3 linked regions of the Homo sapiens genome follow. The protein of the gene in region 1 interacts with the protein of each later gene in a pairwise test. Each region holds a gene or a part of one and is shown in the gene's direction. Other genes may lie near its edges. The genes, in order: VPS39, MECOM and PLEKHM1.

Region 1 (7,119 bases):
CAGAAATTATAGTGCCCAGAAAAATCAGTGAGATCCCTGTAACTGGATAGGCTCCGTGGTCCCTTTTTATTACTGTTATTGAATGAACATTTGCTAAACCTTGTCAGAAATGTTTAATTGGGTCTCATGATTTCCTATTTTCCAGATCCATGTGGTTTCCCAGTTTAAGATTCTGGTCAGCTTGTTAGGTAAGAAAAGGAGTTGCATTTGTATCCTGTGTCTAACAAGAAAAGATATGACCTAATTAATCCTTTCATGGTTAATTTGATAGTGGTTACTTAACAATGAACTGACGTGTTCCAAACCTGGTATAACAGGGTACATGGTTAATAAAGGCAGCAGCATCCTCCATAGACTCGAACTCTTCTCTCCAAGGAGTCTCACTTTATTCATTCATTCGTTCATTGATCAAATATTTATTGAGCCTATTCTATGCAAAGTCTGGACTAGACATTCGGGATACCAAGTTCAGTGAGACATAGTTGCTATCTTTGAGACTTACATTCTGATTATGAAGACTAAATGACAGGAAGTAATCACGATACAATGTGGTAAGTTACAGTGAAAATTTATAAAAAGTGTTGTGGAATCTTGGTAATGGGAGGGACTATATTGTCTAGTAGATAACTAGACTTTCAGTAGGAAAAGAGGCCAGCAGCGTATCACAAACACAGGGAACAACTAGAACAAAGGCCTTGAGATGTGGCAGTTTGTGGCAAATTGTTTATTGTGGCCAGACTAAGGATATGTGGTGGAGATTGGCAGGATATCAGGTAAGAGACAGAGCAGGGCTACACTGTTGAGGCCCTCATGTGAAAAACCATGGTTTCATAGAAAGCAGCCAGTGAGGCCTTTTCTGGACATGCAGGGGACTAGCAGCTGATCTCACACTTTGCGCTGTTGACCCTGGGGCCCAAAGAGTAAAATCATGTTAAATGTTGTTCCTGGGTCCACAGATAAACATCTGAGGTAACTTAATCTTCATGACTAAAACTAGATATGAGGCCCAGGTAAAATGATTATTTTGATTGCTTTGCTAGGAAAGAAATCATTGCCATGGGTTAGTACAAAATGCACAGGGGATTTCCCTTTTCTAATTGGAGCCTCCTAATGTGAGTAGCTTTGAAAGCCATTTCTTGTATAAATACTGCATCATAATATTTCAGACTTGAAATGGACAGAGTATAAGAGTGCTTTGGACTGGGTGCAGTGGCTCACACCAGTAATCCCAGCACTTTGGGAGGCTAAGGCAGGAGGATTGCTTGAGTCCAGGAGTTTGAGACCAGCCTGGGCAACACAGGGAGACCTCATCTCCACAAAAAATAAACAAAATTAGCCAGGTGTGGTGGTGCATGCCTGTAGTCCTAGCTACTCAGGAGGCTGAGGTAGGAGGATCACTTGAGTCTCAAGGAGGTTAAGGCTGTAGTGAGCTGAGATCATGCCCCTTTTGTTGATGCACTCTAGCCTGGGCAACAGAGTGAGACCGTGCCTCAAAAAAAAAAAAAAAAAAAAAAAAAAGAGTGTTTTGGAAGTGAAAGATCTCTTTTACTCAAGTCAGCCCCAATTTTTTTTTTTTTTTTTTTTGAGACGGAGTCTCACTCTGTCGCCCAGGCTGGAGTGTAGTGGTGCAGCCCTGGCTCACTGCAACTTCTGACCTCCTGGGTCAAGGGATTCTCCTGCTTCAACCCCCTGAGTAGCTGGGATTACAGGCACCCACCACCATACCCAGCTGATTTTTGTATTTTTAGTAGAGACAGGGTTTCACTGTGTTACCCAGGCTGGTCTCAAACTCTTGACCTCAAGTGATCTGCCTGTCTCAGCCTCCCAAAGTGCTGGGATGACAGGTGTGAGCCACCATGCCGGGCCAAGCTCAAATGTTTAAGGAAGAAAATATCCAAGTTTAGAAGACCAAGTGACCTCTTAAATGCTTTGTACTGGTTATAGGTGAGAATGAATCATCCTAGTGAAACTGAAGGGACATCTTCAACCAACATCTGCCATTTGCTTCTTCTAGATGTTAACACAGTTACTTTTTTTGCCTCGATAGTGGCTATGCTAGAGAATTATGATCATTGATCCTGATGTTATACCTCCTCCCAAACAGAAAATAACATTTATGTCCATGACCTATTGACATTTCAACAAATCACTACGGTTTCAAAGGCAAAGGGAGCATCACTGTTTACTTGTGACCTCCAGGTAAGTTTACCCAAGATGAAATTTGGCTTTATGCTTTAATCAATACAGTCTTTCCTACATCATTCCTACCATTAGATGGGAAGAATGACACTGATGATCCATACCCAACAGAGACTCCAAAGATTATTTATTTATTTATTTTTTTCCTGAGATGGAGTCTTGTTCTGTCGCCCAGGCTAGAGTGTAGTGGCACGATCTCGGCTCACTGCAACCCCTGCCTCTCGGGCTCAAGTGATTCTCTTGCCTCAGCCTCCTGTGTAGCTGGGACTACAGGTGTGCACCACCACGTCCGGCTATTTTTTGTATTTTTTTAAATTAGAGATGGGGTTTCACCATGTTGGCCAGGCTAGTCTCGAACTCCTGACCTTAGGTGACCTTGGCCTCCCAAAGTGCTGGGATTACAGGCATGAGCCACTGCACCCGGCCCAAAGAGAATATTTAATTGTATTAGAGAAATTTCTCTGTTGGTGCATAGTGTGAAGTTGAAGCGTTTGCATTCCCTGTGCGTGGGTTAATGAGAATCTAATACTATTGGCAAGAGGCAGCTAACCGAGGACAAAAACTCTCGTCCTGGACAAACCATTGTTGGGAAAGCAAGACTGTAACAATATCATGAAGATAATTATAAGACATTAAATGGAGTCTTGTTCTAAACAGATCACTGAGGTCTTTGTCATTAGGGACTTTTCATTGTTCAGAAAAGATATCGCTCTTTATTTTTGCCAATTTATCATTCTTTTATTCTTCAGAATCTGCCTCACCCCTCTCTCTACTCAACTTACCATTTTTTAGCATTTATGTTCTACATTGACACTGCATCATTTTATGCTTAGGAATACTCTTTTCCTTGCTCTTTAAAGGCTTAAAAGTGGGCTTGATGTCACTGGCACATGGTCACCCTTAACCCAGCATGCATTGACAGCCAGGAGCAAGAAACATTTAAGAGCAAAAAGGAGGGAGGAGTTATATAGGGGAAGGACTGCCCCAGGATTTTCTCCTCTGAATTGTGAATGTCCATGTGATTTGCTGGTGCTGTGGTCTTTGGCTGGCAACCCTTCGGGAGGAAGTGTTCCTCAGTCACTTGTTTCTTAGCGCATCTTAGAGAATGGTGTTCTGCTCAGCTTTCCTGGCAGGATGACTGTGTTACAGGGAATTTTCAGAGTAGTAGCAATTTCAAGGTAGACAATCTCTAATTTAGTTATCACTCAGTTAGAGAGAGTCATTGTATTTTCATTTGCTCTGCATGTCTCCTCCCAGCACACAGAGACCGGTGAGGAGGTGTTACGGATGTGTGTGGCAGTAAAAAAGAAGCTGCAGCTCTATTTCTGGAAGGACAGGGAATTTCATGAATTGCAGGTAAGTCCACTGTTCCTTGGTCCATGGTTGGGTGGGAGCTGCTGCAGTGGCTCGGTTCTAGTGAAGTTCAGGACTCCAGTCTTGTCATTCTACGCAAATGAATACTCTGGTATGAAGTGCATGAGAGCTTGTTGATGCCTACTTGTAATATGATTCTACAGTGTTTTTATAGATTGGTTTATTTCAAAGTGGGTTTTCACCTTTTCCAAATGTACTTTGTCCAGTTCATGGACTTGTATTTTTATTAAGGGTAGTTTCCTGGCCTTGTGCCTGTAGAATTGTGCCCGATGAGGGTGAGGGTTGTTTTGCAGAATGGAGGTTGCAGAATAACAGGAAAGTCATGATTTTTTAAAAAAATATTTATTTCATTCAGATCCTTGCTCTCTTTTTTCAGGGGGACTTTAGTGTGCCAGATGTGCCCAAGTCCATGGCGTGGTGTGAAAATTCTATCTGTGTGGGTTTCAAGAGAGACTACTACCTAATAAGGGTAAAATCTTATTATTTTGCAAATATCATTAGTTTATCTTGGGGAAGATGATTATCTGCTCCAAACTCCAGGTCAAGCGACCACTTTAAGTAGAGCTTTTGGCATAACAGGATTTGTTATTTGTATGTGTAGTTATCATTCATGCTCAGCATTTTTCACAAATAGGATATCTTTGTAACTTAAGTCAGTCCAAGAGTCAACGCTCAGTTCTTTACGTAATGATGATCCACAGTGTGTATTTTACTATTGGGACAGATAATGAAGGCTGTTTGCCTCTGTCCAGTGGATCATCATGGACTGCTATCCTAAGGCTTCAGTGCTTAGGAATTTTAAACTAATTTTAGTATAAACTTAAGTATTTTTAAGACTTTGAGTTTCCTCTCCTGCCGTCAAATCTTTTTGTATGTTTGTACTAAAAGTGATTCTCACTATTTTTTTAAATTTCAAAAGCCACGTGTTTTTACACGTGTTTATTACAGAAAATATAGATAAGGAGATAAAGGAAGTGCAAATCAACCATAGTCCCCCCACTCAGAAATAGTCACTGCCAACTTCTTGGTATATGAACTTCCATCCTATTGGTAAAAATACTATGCTATACAATTGTTTTATGACCTGTGTTTTCTCTTAACGTAAGTTGTAAATATCCATGACGTTGTTTTTCTCCAATATGCATACTATATGTAGAAAAGATTGACACACTGTTCGTTTCATTGAATAATCTAAATCTCTTAGCTTCACACCCCTTGTAATTCAGACATGGCAATTCTAGAAGCCTCTCTCTCTACCTTCCACTGGGTGAGCTCTTCATTGGTTATTTTATTTTATTTGAGACAGGGTACCCCTCTGTCACCCAGGCGGGAGTGCAGTGGCAGGATCTTGGCTCACTGCAGCCTCCGTCTCCTGGGCTCAAGCAGTCCTCCCACCTCAGCCTCCCAGGTAGCCCAGATGCCTACCACCATGCTCAGCTAATTTTTGTATTTTTTTTTTTTTTGTATTTTTGTAGAGATGGGGTCACAATATGTTGCATAGGCTGGTCTTAAACTCCTGGGCTCAAGCAGCCCTCCTGCCTCAGCCTCCCAAAGTGCTGAGATTACAGCCACCATGCCTGGCCCCATTGTTATCTTGTTAATATATTTGTTCCATCTTTGTGTCATTTGAATATCCTGATTTTATCAGCATCAGAGTTGCAGACTCCTGGAGGAGTCACTGCTGTGCCACTGACTCAATAGCAAGTAGGCCTACAGATGGTGAGAGAGCGCACAAGGAATAAGGGAACTGAGCAAAAGCTGGACTTAAGGCTCTCAGTTCTCTGACTGCCTTGGATGCTGACATCACCTTCAGGGTGGGAAACCTTGCTTTAGGACCAGGCTATTCAGAAATTACTTATTTACATACAGTAAAATTTATTCTTTTTGGTGTACAGTTCTGTGTTTTGACAAATGCTTAGATTTATGTGACTAATGCCACAATCGAGATTCACAACACTACCATCACCCCCCAAAATTCCCTCATATTGAAGTCAGCCTCTCCTTCTGTTCCTAGACCTCTGGTAACCACTCATCTGTTCTTCATCTCCTATAGCTTTGCCTTTTCCAGAATGTCATATAAATTGAATGACACAATATGTAGGCTTTTGAGTCTGGCTTCTTTCACTTAGCAGAATGCACTGGAGATTTATCCATGTTGTTGTGTGTGTTAATAGTTTATTCTTTCTCATGGCTGAATAGTAGTCTATGGCAAGGTGTTTGTTTATCCATTCATCAGTTGATGGACAAAGTTGATTTTGGCCAGGCGCGGTGGCTCACACCTTTAATCCCAGCACTTTGGGAGGCCGTGGCGGGTGGATCACGAGGTCAGGAGATTGAGACCATCCTGGCTAACACGGTGAAACCCCATCTCTACTAAAAATACAAAAAAAAAAATTAGCCTGGCGTGGTGGCACACGCCTGTAGTTCCAGCTACTCAGGAGGCTGAGGCAGGAGGATTGTTTGAACCCAGGAGGCGGAGGTTGCAGTGAGCTGAGATTGTGCCACTGCACTCCAGCCTGGGCGACAGAGCAAGACTGTCTCCAAAAAAAAAAAAAAAAAAAGTTGTTTTCAATTTTTAGCAATTTTGAATAAGCATCTAAGACATTTGCATACAAGCGTTTGTGTAAACATACATTGGCATTCCTGGGCAAATGCCTGGGAATGGGATTGCTGGGGCATATGGTAAGTGTATCTTTAAGGGGCATATGGCAAGTGTATCTTAAACTTTGTAAGAAACCAACAAACAAAACAGCTGCACCATTTTGCATTCCCACCAGCAGTGAATGTGAGTTCTAGTTGCTCTGCATTCTTGCCAGCACCTGGCATTGTCAGTTGCCAGGCTAGATGCTTTCCTTTGCATTAGAGAACGGGTTTTACATTGTGATAACAACGGTTATTATAATAAACTCTGTAACATTTTCTTATGTCAAACAAGGAATATTATTGGCTTCTCTAGGTTTCGGGTTCTATCTGGATTTTTCCTGTGTTCTTACCTCTGGCTGGGGAATGCTAGGTGACTCACTCTGTTTCTTCCTATAGGTGGATGGAAAGGGGTCCATCAAAGAGCTCTTTCCAACAGGAAAACAGCTGGAGCCCTTAGTTGCACCTCTGGCAGATGGAAAAGTGGCTGTGGGCCAGGATGATCTCACCGTGGTACTCAATGAGGAAGGGATCTGCACACAGAAATGTGCCCTGAACTGGACGGACATACCAGTGGCCATGGGTGAGACCAACAGTAGCTGCTGTTTCCCACTTTGGGTTGAGGTTGTGTGCCATTCCTGCAGAACGGAGTCCCATTCGTAGCTTTAGCAGACTGGTTTACGTTGTGTCATTCACTTTCAGTTCCCCTTCTTATAAGTAGATGACATTTTAGGGTCATTAAAAATGGGATAGTCTAGTTCTTGCAAGAAGCTGAGTTTTACTCCAGAGGGGGAAAACATATAAACAGAAATGTTTATTTTAGGAAGTGATTATCTACTGCTATCTTTTACTTCTTAGTTTTTTTCTTCCTCCTTTTTTTAAGAGTTTTGATTGTGTCCTCTGCCA
Region 2 (3,825 bases), on another chromosome or scaffold:
AATTGAAAATAGTTGACCAGTACAATAGTAGCTGCATTTTGCATGTGCTCTCCCTCAAGAAACTCTATCCGGTAAAAATTAATTTCATGGTAATAGGTACTATTTATGTATTACCTCAGTCAGGCACACTGAGCTAAACACTTTATGTAAGTTAGTGCATGTGATTCCTCCACAACTCTTGGAGGCCAATACTGTTATTACTATCATCTGTTTTATAGGAGGAAAGTAAAGCTTAAAAGGTTAAGCAACTTGCTCAAGATCACACAGCTAGGTGAGTAGAGGCAGGTTTAAAGGCAGGATTAAAATTTAAATTCCAAAATTTTCTTTGTACTCCTTTTTATCTTCCCAAATATCAGAATTTGTTTTAACTCTTTCAGAGTACTCTTTATCTTGTTCTCTAAAAGTAGGTACATAATCAGAATAGATAATTTAGGTTGAATGCTCACTTAACCCATACTTTAAACTCTGCCAAAGATAAGTACTCTATATTATTTATTCTTAATTTCTTAGGATCTATCACAGAGCCTGGCATAGAGTAGATGCTTAAGAAATATTTGTTAAATGGATCATGAGATATTGTAGAAGTCCAAAAGGCAAATTGCATACATAAAAGTCAAATGTGTACATTTAGAGCGATGACCCAGCAAATCAAAAATCAGCCTACAAGGGTAAATTTTCTAACTAAATGCAATGATTACGGAAGAAACCACAGACTGGCCACATGTCTCAGCATGACTCCCAGAGATGAAATTCTGCCTAACAACAGAGGCATTTTGTCTTTGTTTACAGACAGTGGAATGTCTTTGGCAGGACTTTAATGATTCCACTTCAGCAGCATTTTGACAAGCAAGTTTAGCAATGGATGAGACCAACAATAGCAAATCAACAGTGAAAAGTTCACTTACAAGTCAAGACCAAACATTTCATTTGAATATTTTGCTTGGCAGTAAATAGGGGACTCTCTGAACAGTTATTTAAAATTTGACATGATAATAGGGAAGAAAGAGTACTTCCTCACAGAGCACCTCCATGCACCTTCTGCTCAGCAGACACTGGAAAACAAGTTGATTAGAACACTGTTGGGTCTTGTGTTTGGTTTTATTTTTTTGGTAGAGCTGATTTGATCCACCTCAACTTATGGGTGCCAGGACTGAGTATGTCAAGCATGGAGGGAAATTGGAGAAAAGACAATGGATTAAAAGTTGGGCAGAAATACATTTTAGTTATGCTTCTCCCACTATCTATCTAATTGAGTGACTTTGGGCAAGTCACTCAAGCACCTTCAGTGCTTTCGGTTATAAAGTGTAGGAGTCAGGCTGTATCCTCTACTAGGCCACAGCTCTGTCAAGGTAGGTCTATATCTTATTAATATTTGAGGTTTCAGTCATAAGCACACAATAATATTTTTGGTGAATTGAACATATGTAGTGGATGGATGACTGTATTTATAGTTGAACAGGAGACTGACTCATTTTTCTCAATGGAAGCACTATTTGCATTTTAGGTAGGATAGTTCTTTTTGGTTCTGTAGCGTGTGTCACTTTTGGGGCCCCTAGGCACTAAAGGCCAGCAGTAATCCCATGTGGTTTCTACAAAAAATATGCCTTCTTTGCCAAACACACCCATGAAGGATGCCCCTACTCAGGGTCCCATCCCTTTCCATTTACCAACAATATTCTTTGAACTAAAAGTGATGTTTTTCAAATGCCATTTACTGAGTCTCTCTCCTTTTTACCCCAGGCATATGCTATGATGCTGTCACTGTCTGACAAGGAGTCCCTCCATTCTACATCCCACAGTTCTTCCAACGTGTGGCACAGTATGGCCAGGGCTGCGGCGGAATCCAGTGCTATCCAGTCCATAAGCCACGTATGACGTTATCAAGGTTGACCAGAGTGGGACCAAGTCCAACAGTAGCATGGCTCTTTCATATAGGACTATTTACAAGACTGCTGAGCAGAATGCCTTATAAACCTGCAGGGTCACTCATCTAAAGTCTAGTGACCTTAAACTGAATGATTTAAAAAAGAAAAGAAAGAAAAAAGAAACTATTTATTCTCGATATTTTGTTTTGCACAGCAAAGGCAGCTGCTGACTTCTGGAAGATCAATCAATGCGACTTAAAGTGATTCAGTGAAAACAAAAAACTTGGTGGGCTGAAGGCATCTTCCAGTTTACCCCACCTTAGGGTATGGGTGGGTGAGAAGGGCAGTTGAGATGGCAGCATTGATATGAATGAACACTCCATAGAAACTGAATTCTCTTTTGTACAAGATCACCTGACATGATTGGGAACAGTTGCTTTTAATTACAGATTTAATTTTTTTCTTCGTTAAAGTTTTATGTAATTTAACCCTTTGAAGACAGAAGTAGTTGGATGAAATGCACAGTCAATTATTATAGAAACTGATAACAGGGAGTACTTGTTCCCCCTTTTGCCTTCTTAAGTACATTGTTTAAAACTAGGGAAAAAGGGTATGTGTATATTGTAAACTATGGATGTTAACACTCAAAGAGGTTAAGTCAGTGAAGTAACCTATTCATCACCAGTACCGCTGTACCACTAATAAATTGTTTGCCAAATCCTTGTAATAACATCTTAATTTTAGACAATCATGTCACTGTTTTTAATGTTTATTTTTTTGTGTGTGTTGCGTGTATCATGTATTTATTTGTTGGCAAACTATTGTTTGTTGATTAAAATAGCACTGTTCCAGTCAGCCACTACTTTATGACGTCTGAGGCACACCCCTTTCCGAATTTCAAGGACCAAGGTGACCCGACCTGTGTATGAGAGTGCCAAATGGTGTTTGGCTTTTCTTAACATTCCTTTTTGTTTGTTTGTTTTGTTTTCCTTCTTAATGAACTAAATACGAATAGATGCAACTTAGTTTTTGTAATACTGAAATCGATTCAATTGTATAAACGATTATAATTTCTTTCATGGAAGCATGATTCTTCTGATTAAAAACTGTACTCCATATTTTATGCTGGTTGTCTGCAAGCTTGTGCGATGTTATGTTCATGTTAATCCTATTTGTAAAATGAAGTGTTCCCAACCTTATGTTAAAAGAGAGAAGTAAATAACAGACTGTATTCAGTTATTTTGCCCTTTATTGAGGAACCAGATTTGTTTTCTTTTTGTTTGTAATCTCATTTTGAAATAATCAGCAAGTTGAGGTACTTTCTTCAAATGCTTTGTACAATATAAACTGTTATGCCTTTCAGTGCATTACTATGGGAGGAGCAACTAAAAAATAAAGACTTACAAAAAGGAGTATTTTTCCCCACTGTGTGGTATTTTTCCTTCATGCAATTTTACTTTCCCTTTGGGATCCAATGATTTAAAGATATGATGCTGAGATCTTGATGCCCTACAGATATGTGGAATGTAGAGTATGTTTGTTTTGTTTTGAGATAGCATAAATGATAGTTCTTGGGCAACAATGAGTCTCGCTTATTGTTCTGTACTTTCCCCATGTGGTGCAGTCAGGGCTCAAGTGCACCACAACCCAGTCCTGGTATCACTTCACGTTCACAGCATCCACTTAAATTAGGACAAAGAGCGACTTACAGGTTTTCTACGGATTGTATGCCAAAAGGAACTCAGTTTCTTATTTTTGTTTTTCATTATACGAGTAGTGTTAACTGATTCACAAAGGGGGGAAACCTTTGACTTTTCTATGCTCCTTTTAATTTTTTGTCCACATGCAAAATATCCTTTTTTCATTGTTATAACTGCGTGTAAACAAGATTTATTTTTTCTTTCTTTGCTTGTGTCAAAAGAAAAAAAAATTACACTGCATAGTGCTACAAATTCTTCAA
Region 3 (8,081 bases), on another chromosome or scaffold:
AGCACCAGAAGATTCTGCTGAAAGCCTGCTCCCCAGAAGGGTGGGAACAATAGGGACAATGAACTGCTGTTGTTCGTTATGTTTCATCCCCATTCCGTTTCATTTTATTGAATTGTAAACCGTGTGTATAACAACACTTTTTAATCAATTTTTTAAAAAAGAGAGAGTGGAAAGAAACCGCTTCCTACAACAGAACTGAAGAGCACACCAGTGATTACAGTGTCCAGAGAGGAGGGTGCATTAACACTAGTTTTATTATTTCAATCAGATGCCAAGCAAGAATATATCTGGGGTTCAGACAAGAAAGGCTCTCATTCAAGTGCTTACAAGAGCAATGGAAGGCAAGGACCTGCCCAATTGGCAGGGTGAAAATTAGCCACAACTAGAATAGTAACAACTGTTCATCTTTGAGCACTTACTACAGGCCAGAACTTGCATTAAGGATATCATCTTTTTCTTTTCTTTTTTTCTTTTCCTTTTTTTTTTTTTTTTTTTGTTGTTGTTGTTTTGGAACAGAGTCTCACTCTGTCATGTAGGCTGCAGTGCAGTGGCGCAATCTCAGCTCACTGCAACCTCAGCCTCCCAGGTTCAAGCGATTCTTGTGCCTCAGCCTCACAAGTACCTGGGACTACAGGCATGAACCACCATGCCTGGCTAATTTTTGTATCTTTGGTAGAGATGGGGTTTCACCATGTTGGCCAGGCTGGTTTCGAACTCCTGGCCTCAAGTAATCCACCCACCTCAGCCTCCCAAAGTTATGGGATTACAGGCGTGAGCCACTGTGCCCAGCCAGGATATCATGATATTTACTCCTCACATCAACTGACATTAGCCCCTATTTACAATGAGGAACTGAGGCTCAGAGAGGTTTTGGCACTTGCCTGAGGTCACACACTCTGGGCTCTCTGCTTGGGGCTGAGGGCGAAGGGGCGTTGTGACTTACTTCTCTTTCCTGAACATCAATAAAATTCAATTTAGAAATTTCTGTCTTCAGTGCGATCTCAACGGGCCTGTGAAAAATGCTGACTCGGTGGCAGCTGTCAGCTATCTTAGCCCCATACTCATTGGGTTGCCCTGGGCCCCACACTGTTTTAAGGAAGTCCCAGCAAACAATATGGGATAGAGATGAGATTCAAACCTAAACAGCCCTGGCTCTAAAATCCACTGAACAAAGCTGAAACTAGAATCAGAAAGAACTAGGTAAGAATCCTACTTCTAGCACTTACTACTTCTGTGGCTGTGGCCCCCCCGCAAGTTACTTAACCTCTTTTTTTTTTTTTTTTAAGAGATGAAGTCTCGCTCTGTCACCAGGCTGGAGTGCAGTGGCGTGATCTCGGTTCACTGCAACCTCTGCCTCCTGGGTTCAAGCGATTCTCCTGCTTCAGCCTCCCAAGTAGCTGGGACTACAGATGCGTGCTACCACGCCCAGCTAATTCTTTGTATTTTAGTAGAGACAGGGTTTCACCATGTTGGCCAGGATGGTCTGGATCTCTTGATCTCATGATCCACCCACCTCGGCCTCCCAAAGTGCTGGGATTACAGGCATGAGCCACCGCACCTGGCCACTTAACCTCTTTTAAGCCTATTTTCTCATCCATACAATAGAGATAATGGCAGCACCCACCTTTCAGGTGGCTGGTAAGGAATATTAGGTGAACACAGGTGCCTATGTATGTTCTTCCATTTTCCATAAATGTTAATTCCCTTATCCCTCATCTCCTAGGTTAGTCCCGGAGGACAGACTTGAACTTTGAAAACAGAAAGTAACTGCCAAAAGGGATTATTTAGGGCACAGATTTCCCCCTTTCATTATCCTTTAGGTCCTCAGTGGTGAGGGCAGGGGACAGGAGAGGTGGGGTGAAGCCCAAATTCTTGGACCTCATCCTAGAGTGACTCTTTAGGGTTAGTGTGGGGCTTAGGAATCTGCATTTTGGACCTGTCCCCAGGGCATTCTGATGCCTACAGTTCTCCTGTGTGGCTTTGAATAACGCTGGGTAGTGCTTTAAATCCAAGCTGACAGACCAGTGGGATGTGAACCATCCTTGCAAATGGTTTGAGCCCTTTCTGCACTGGCCTCCAACTTTGCCTTGCTCAGTCTTCAGCTCCCCTTCCATTCTGGCCCTCTCCCCTTACCCTTTCCTTTTTCACTTCCTTTTATTTTTATTTATTTTTATTATTATTTAAAAAAAATTTTTTTTGAGACAGGATCTCACTCTGTCGCCCAGGCTGTAGTGCAGTGGCATTATCTTGGCTCACTGCAATCTCCGCCTCCCGGGTTCAAGCAATTCTCATACCTCAGCCTCCTTAGTAGCTGGGACTACAGACACACACCACCACACCTGGCTAATTTTTGTATTTTTAGTAGAGATGGGCTTTCACCATGTTGGCCAGGCAGGTCTCGAACTCCTGACCTCAAGTGATCCACCAGCTTCGGCCACCCAAAGTGCTGGGATTACAGGCATGACCCACCGTGCCCAGCCTCCTTTTTCACTTCCCACCTTCCTCCCCACCTCTGGGTGCACCCTTCCCTGAGCTCAGCCTGTATTCCTATGTGCTGGCCACTTACCAGCCAGTCCCTTCAGCTGCAATACCCTTTACTCACCTAGAAAGCTCATATCAAAAGTCGCCTCCTCCAGAATACCTCTCAAGTTCTCCTCTCTGGTCCCTTGGCCCTTTGCAGGTACCTTTTTTCTTGCGCAAGTCACGTGATAATGTAAGGGTTTTTTTTTTTTTTTTCCCCCCCATCTGGAGCCTGCCTGGTGGGCTCAGGGTCCATTTGTGCAAACATGCATTTCCCTCTCCTCTGCGCCCCCTCCTTCATGATCCATGCTTTATGCAGCTTCCCCAAGGCATGCAGAGCAAGCTGAGAAGAGGTAGGCAAGCCTGAAGACTTTTCAAAGAAGCAGGGTAGCTTGGGAAGTAAGAGAAGACCAGGAGATAGGGGCTCCTAAAAAGCAGACAAGAGATTACCGAGGGGTTCCCCACAGCTCCAGCACACAGCCGCTGCACAAAAATGCAGTGGAATTACTGAGGGACATTATGTGCTTGATGGGGGACAGGGAATGCTTGTGCCAAGCCACCAAGGATTATGCTGTGCCAGTTGTATACTATCGTTTTGCCAAGGTGAAAGGATTTCCCTACTAAATCCCTTACTTTCCACTTTGTTTAAAATGAGTTTAACACCGAGAGAATAGTTTGTCTCTATGTCCTTATTTCTAATCTTCCTGCTCAACCATTAACTGCAGTAAACACACTCAGACCCATCTAGTCTAAAATTGAGAAGGGGAGGTTCTCACTCCTGGAGAGAGAATTACTGAAAGGGCGGCCCTCATACAGTCCAGGGTCATACCCCCAAGTGCTGGTTTTATACTTGAAAGCAGACAGTGGGACTCTGAACTTTGCAGAGATAAGAGGGACACCTTCCTACCCAGAGAAGCCAAAAGAGCACAGGACGCCCAGGCCGAGGGCAGTGAAGCTTGCTTCCAAGAACTGGCCCGTTCCCCAGCCAACCCCTGTGCCCACTTAGGACTGGCATGTAGCAGTACCTCTCCTCATCCACACTCAGGCCCTAGGCTCCCAATTGACCAAAGCCTGCAAGTATAAAGTGTCCAGAGCATGGGTCCCTGCCAACACTCCCTGCCCTGCTCTTCACTACCTGTGGCCACCACTTATGACATTTTGTTCCGAGTTCATCTGAAAGAGAAATGTCACTTTTGCGTTAGAAAGAAGATATACAGGCCAGGTGTGGTGGTTCATGCCTGTAATCCCAGCACTTTGGGAGGCCGAGTCAGGAGGATCGCCTGAGGCCAGGAGTTGGAGACCAGGTTAGGTAACACAGTGAGACCCCTGTCTCTACAAAATAAACAAATTTTTTTAAAAATGAAAAGATTGGCCGGGCGCGGTGGCTCACGCCTGTGATCCCAGCACTTTGGGAGGCCGAGGCGGGTGGATCACCAGGTCAGGAGATCGAGACCATCCTGGCTAACACGGTGAAACCCCATCTCTACTAAAAACATAAAAAAATTAGCCGGGCGTGGTGGCGGGCTCCTGTAGTCCCAGCTACTCGGGAGGCTGAGGCAGGAGAATGGCGTCAATCCAGGAGGCGGAGCTTGCAGTGAGCCGAGATCGCGCCATTGCACTCCAGCCTGGGCGACAGAGCCAGACTCCGTCGCAAAAAAAAAAAAAAAAAGAAAAAAGAAAAAATTAGCTGGGCGTGGTGGTGCACGCCTGTAGTCCCAGCTGCTTGGAGGCTGAGGTGGGAGAACCACTTAGTCCGTGAGGTCAAAGCTGTGGTGAGCCGTGATCGTGCCACAGCACTCCAGTCTGGGCGACAGAGTGAGACCCTGTCTCAAAAAAAAAGCAGAAAGGAAGAAAGAAATCCTCTACACGGGCTAGAAGAGAATAACCAGACCCCTAAGCTTCAAGCCAGGCGGTGCTAATGGGCGAGTTACACACGGGAGAGTGCCCAAGGGGACCTCAAGGCGTTCCCTTGGGATAAAGTGTGGTCAAAACAGCTATGTTTATCCTGAAAGCGCAAGGCGGAGGCTCCAATTTGGGCCCGGGCTCCGCCCCACGGGCTGCACTGCTGCCCTCGGAGAGGCAAAGATAGGGCAGGCGTTATTAGTCCCACTCACAAGTGGGAACTCTTCAGCTGAGGGAGGCGAAGTGACAGCCCCAATGTTGCACAGATGGTTCTGAGGCCAAACGAGGTCAGGAACCCAGAAGCCAGGATCTAGTTTGACGCAGACCTGCGGGAGGCGGGCGGTAACGGATGCGTTCTCCCTGACACCGGTGCCTTCGCCTCTCTGCGCCCTGCAGGCGCCCCCAGTTCCCCAGCCTCCCAGACCTCGCATCTGCCCCGGGGCTCAGCTCCCAGGGACTTCCGGGAGCAGCTGGCCCCGCCCCAAGGCTCCTTCGGGCTGCGCGATTGGCACCGCGGGCCGGGGCAGGGCCGGAGCGCCGAGCCAACGTGATGGCGTCAGGGGCCGGGGCGCCGCTTCCTGTTGTCAGTGGCCGAGAGACCGCATCGTCGGCTCGGAGGCTGAGGGGCTGCCGCGGCCGGGAGCGCCCCTCGCCTCGCTCCTCGCTCCGCTTGGTGAGTTAGGGGGTCAAGATGCGAGGAGGGCGGCGGAGTGGTGGGAGGGCCGAGGCGCGAACGGGCGGTGGGCCTCCCGCTCCCTCCGCGATTCCCAGCCCCTGGTTACCCTGAGACTGCCCGGCTTCAGGGCCCTCAGCCCTGTCCAGCCCGCGCCCGCTCCTCTCCGACCCAGCCTTCCCCCTGCACCGCCGCTGTGGCCCCGTCCCCTCCGTCTGTCCAGCCCCCAGCCCGCGCCCGCATCCCCTCACCAGCGGTCTTGCTTAAATGCAGCTTCACTCGTGACCCCACTTTACCCCAGTTCCAACACCGATCTCGGCCACGTCCCTTCGCCCCGCCCTGACACACCTCATCCTCTCTCCCCACCCCTCTGGTAATCCCGATGCTCCGCGCTTACCTCCCCGAGACCCACCATTCAGGTTTCCCCTTTTCTGGCTCAGCTTTCTTATCCCAGTCACCCCCATCCCCCGTCTAGCTCCCCAAGATCTGCTCATCCCAAACATTCTACCTCCGCCCTCTCATCTAAGACCCACCCCCAAAGTAGGTGCCCTGTTGAGCTCACCGCTTTCTTCTGGATAACTCCGATCTCAGCCTTATTCCAAGTCTTAACTGTGTCTTCTCGTCCTTAGTCTCCTAGCCACTGTATACCTTCCTTTGCGTCTCCTGCCGTACTGAGGACAGCCCATCCCTAAGTCTTTGCCAAACTGTCCCGAACTCTTGCTGCCTCCTTTCCTACCACCCTCACCCAATCTTGTTAAAAATGACATCTCCATGTCCTTTCACCCCCGCTGACCCACCGCAACTCTTCACCCCAACTCTGCGTCCATTGCTTCCCTCGACCCAACTCCCATTCAACCTGAGAACTTAGTGCAGAGTCGCCTGCCAACTCCACCAGCTGCCCCTCAACAGCCAAATGTAGGTGCTCACTCAGACCCGCAGTTACAGACTGAGCAGCATGATTGGCGGGTGCAGGGGCTCAGGTGGTAAATAAGGGTGGAGGAGCAGTGGGCTCTCCCCAACTCTTGGGTGGGGCCGGGGTTTTTCCTGGCATCTGGTCTCCTGCACCTGTCCTCAGGGATTGTGTTTTTGGCATTCATATTAAATGACTTGTGCTGGCTGCTGGAATGGTAGGTATCATTCAAATATCTGGAAGGTGAGAGACGGCCACTCACTCAGCTCACTTAGCACAGAATGATGGAAGCTGTCACTTCCTTCTGGTTGGTGTTCTCGCCCTGGAGAGCTTCTGGGAAGTTCTGTGTGGTGTTGGCTGTGGTCACAGAATATTGTTCGTGTTCCTTTTCTTGGCACTTGTAAGGGCCTCTCCCTGCCAGAGCTGATGGCAGATCAGTCCTGATGCTGAATTCAGGGGATATGATGGGTGCCAGAGGCAACGTTACCTGTTGTGAAGAGTATAGGTGAGTAGGTCCTGGGGAGGCTGAGGCCTAGGTGGGTACAGAGGCTCTTGAATCGCTTTCTTTTCTTTTAAGTGCTGGATCATTGACTTTTGGCCATCTGGGTTCCATGAACACAGGGAACCATGTTATCTCAGAGTAGCTGAGGCAGAAGGACATTCCAGAGGCACCCAAGTCCCATGCTCAGCATTTATAGTTTCCTGGGGGCTTTTTGGTACACATTTTCTCTGAATCCTGAGGACCCGGCATCAGATGGGTGGGCCATTTGATTGCAGCTTTTTTCTTTCTTTCTTTCTTTTTTTCGACGGAGTTTACTCTTGTTCCCCAGCCTGGAGTGCAGTGGCATGATCTCGGCTCACCGCAACCTCTGCCTCCCAGGTTCAAGCGATTCTCCTGCCTCAGCCTCCCGAGTAGCTGGGATTACAGGCATACACCACCATGCCCGGCTAGTTTTGTATTTTTAGTAGAGATGGGGGTTTCTCTGTGTTGATCAGGCTGGTCTCCAACTCCCGACCTCAGGTGATCCACCCACCTCGGCCTCCCAAAGTGCTGGGATTACGGGCGTGAGCCGCCGCACCTGGCTGATTGCAGTTTTAAAGAGCCCCAAAGAACACTGTCTCTGCTTGCCACTTATAGTCGTATTCCTTTGAAAAGTGAATGCTGTTTACCTTCAATGTCCTCCCATTAATATGCAGTATATTTAAGTTGTTTTCAGCCTTATTGGCAGCTTGGCTTAATGACAGGAGCTCCACAGTTGCCCCAGCACTTAAGAGTTGTATACCCCAACTTCCCACAGTGTGTGAAGTGGAGGTACTTACCCCGTGCCTTGTTTTTATTTTATTAATCAATTCATTCAACAGCTTATTTTTTGAGCACCAGTGTGTGACAAACACTGTTCCAGGTACTAGAAATACAATGGTGAATGGGTCAGGCAACGGTCCTGTTTTCATTCATTCAGAGTTTGGTCCTTGTTAGAATCCTCTGGGATATGGGACAAGAATACAGGAAAGCTGGGTGATACTGGATGGAAGGAAGGAGGGAGGAAAGAAAGATAGCTAGTGTTCACTGACTCCACAATTCTGCCCTCATCCACTAGCCCTGAGTCTGGGAATCACAAGCTAAAAGTTTCTCACCCTTCATCTGGTATTTAATTGCTTCAAAGCTCCAACCCCCACCACTCCACCCATCACAGAAATCCAGCTTTCCTCAGGTGGACAGAGGTGCAGTTTCCTCAGTCAGCACTCACATGCCTGAAAGATCAGCTGCCTTTCTGAATCAGAGGATAACTTTGTCATTCTTTTCCAATTGAAAAAACATGACTCATCAATTGGTACAGCAGTTGGATGGCTTAAAGCCAGGCTGTGGCTCTGAACAGCCAGTTACACAATTCAGGCAGTGGAGAGAAGGCCGTGGGGAGTGGCTGAGGAGTCCCTCAAGAGAAGAGGTTGCTGTTCACTGATGGTGGAGTGTTTTGAGAGTGGTGGAACCAGGTTATCCCTTTCTTCTTTTAACGTAAGTCTCATCCAAGTCATTCTCTTTTTTTGCTTCCTTGATCTCTGGAGGAAGTGAAATTG

The links.
Region 2: the proteins of VPS39 (region 1) and MECOM interact in a two-hybrid assay, tested with the Homo sapiens proteins (one study listed by BioGRID).
Region 3: the proteins of VPS39 (region 1) and PLEKHM1 interact in binary tests that used the Homo sapiens proteins (3 or more experiments, as listed by UniProt).

The regions. Positions count from the first base shown.
Region 1 is NC_000015.10:42,184,194-42,191,312, reverse strand, and holds part of VPS39 (vam6/Vps39-like protein), read left to right. Parts: intron 1-145; coding exon 146-188; intron 189-2,104; coding exon 2,105-2,199; intron 2,200-3,456; coding exon 3,457-3,555; intron 3,556-3,949; coding exon 3,950-4,042; intron 4,043-6,612; coding exon 6,613-6,796; intron 6,797-7,119. UniProt on the Homo sapiens protein: Regulator of TGF-beta/activin signaling, inhibiting SMAD3- and activating SMAD2-dependent transcription.
Region 2 is NC_000003.12:169,082,959-169,086,783, reverse strand, and holds the end of MECOM (histone-lysine N-methyltransferase MECOM), read left to right. Parts: intron 1-1,740; coding exon 1,741-1,875; 3' UTR 1,876-3,277; downstream 3,278-3,825.
Region 3 is NC_000017.11:45,487,666-45,495,746, reverse strand, and holds the start of PLEKHM1 (pleckstrin homology domain-containing family M member 1), read left to right. Parts: upstream 1-5,025; 5' UTR 5,026-5,095; exon of another isoform or gene 5,096-6,510; intron 6,511-7,884; exon of another isoform or gene 7,885-7,965; coding exon of another isoform or gene 7,966-8,019; intron 8,020-8,081. UniProt on the Homo sapiens protein: Acts as a multivalent adapter protein that regulates Rab7-dependent and HOPS complex-dependent fusion events in the endolysosomal system and couples autophagic and the endocytic trafficking pathways.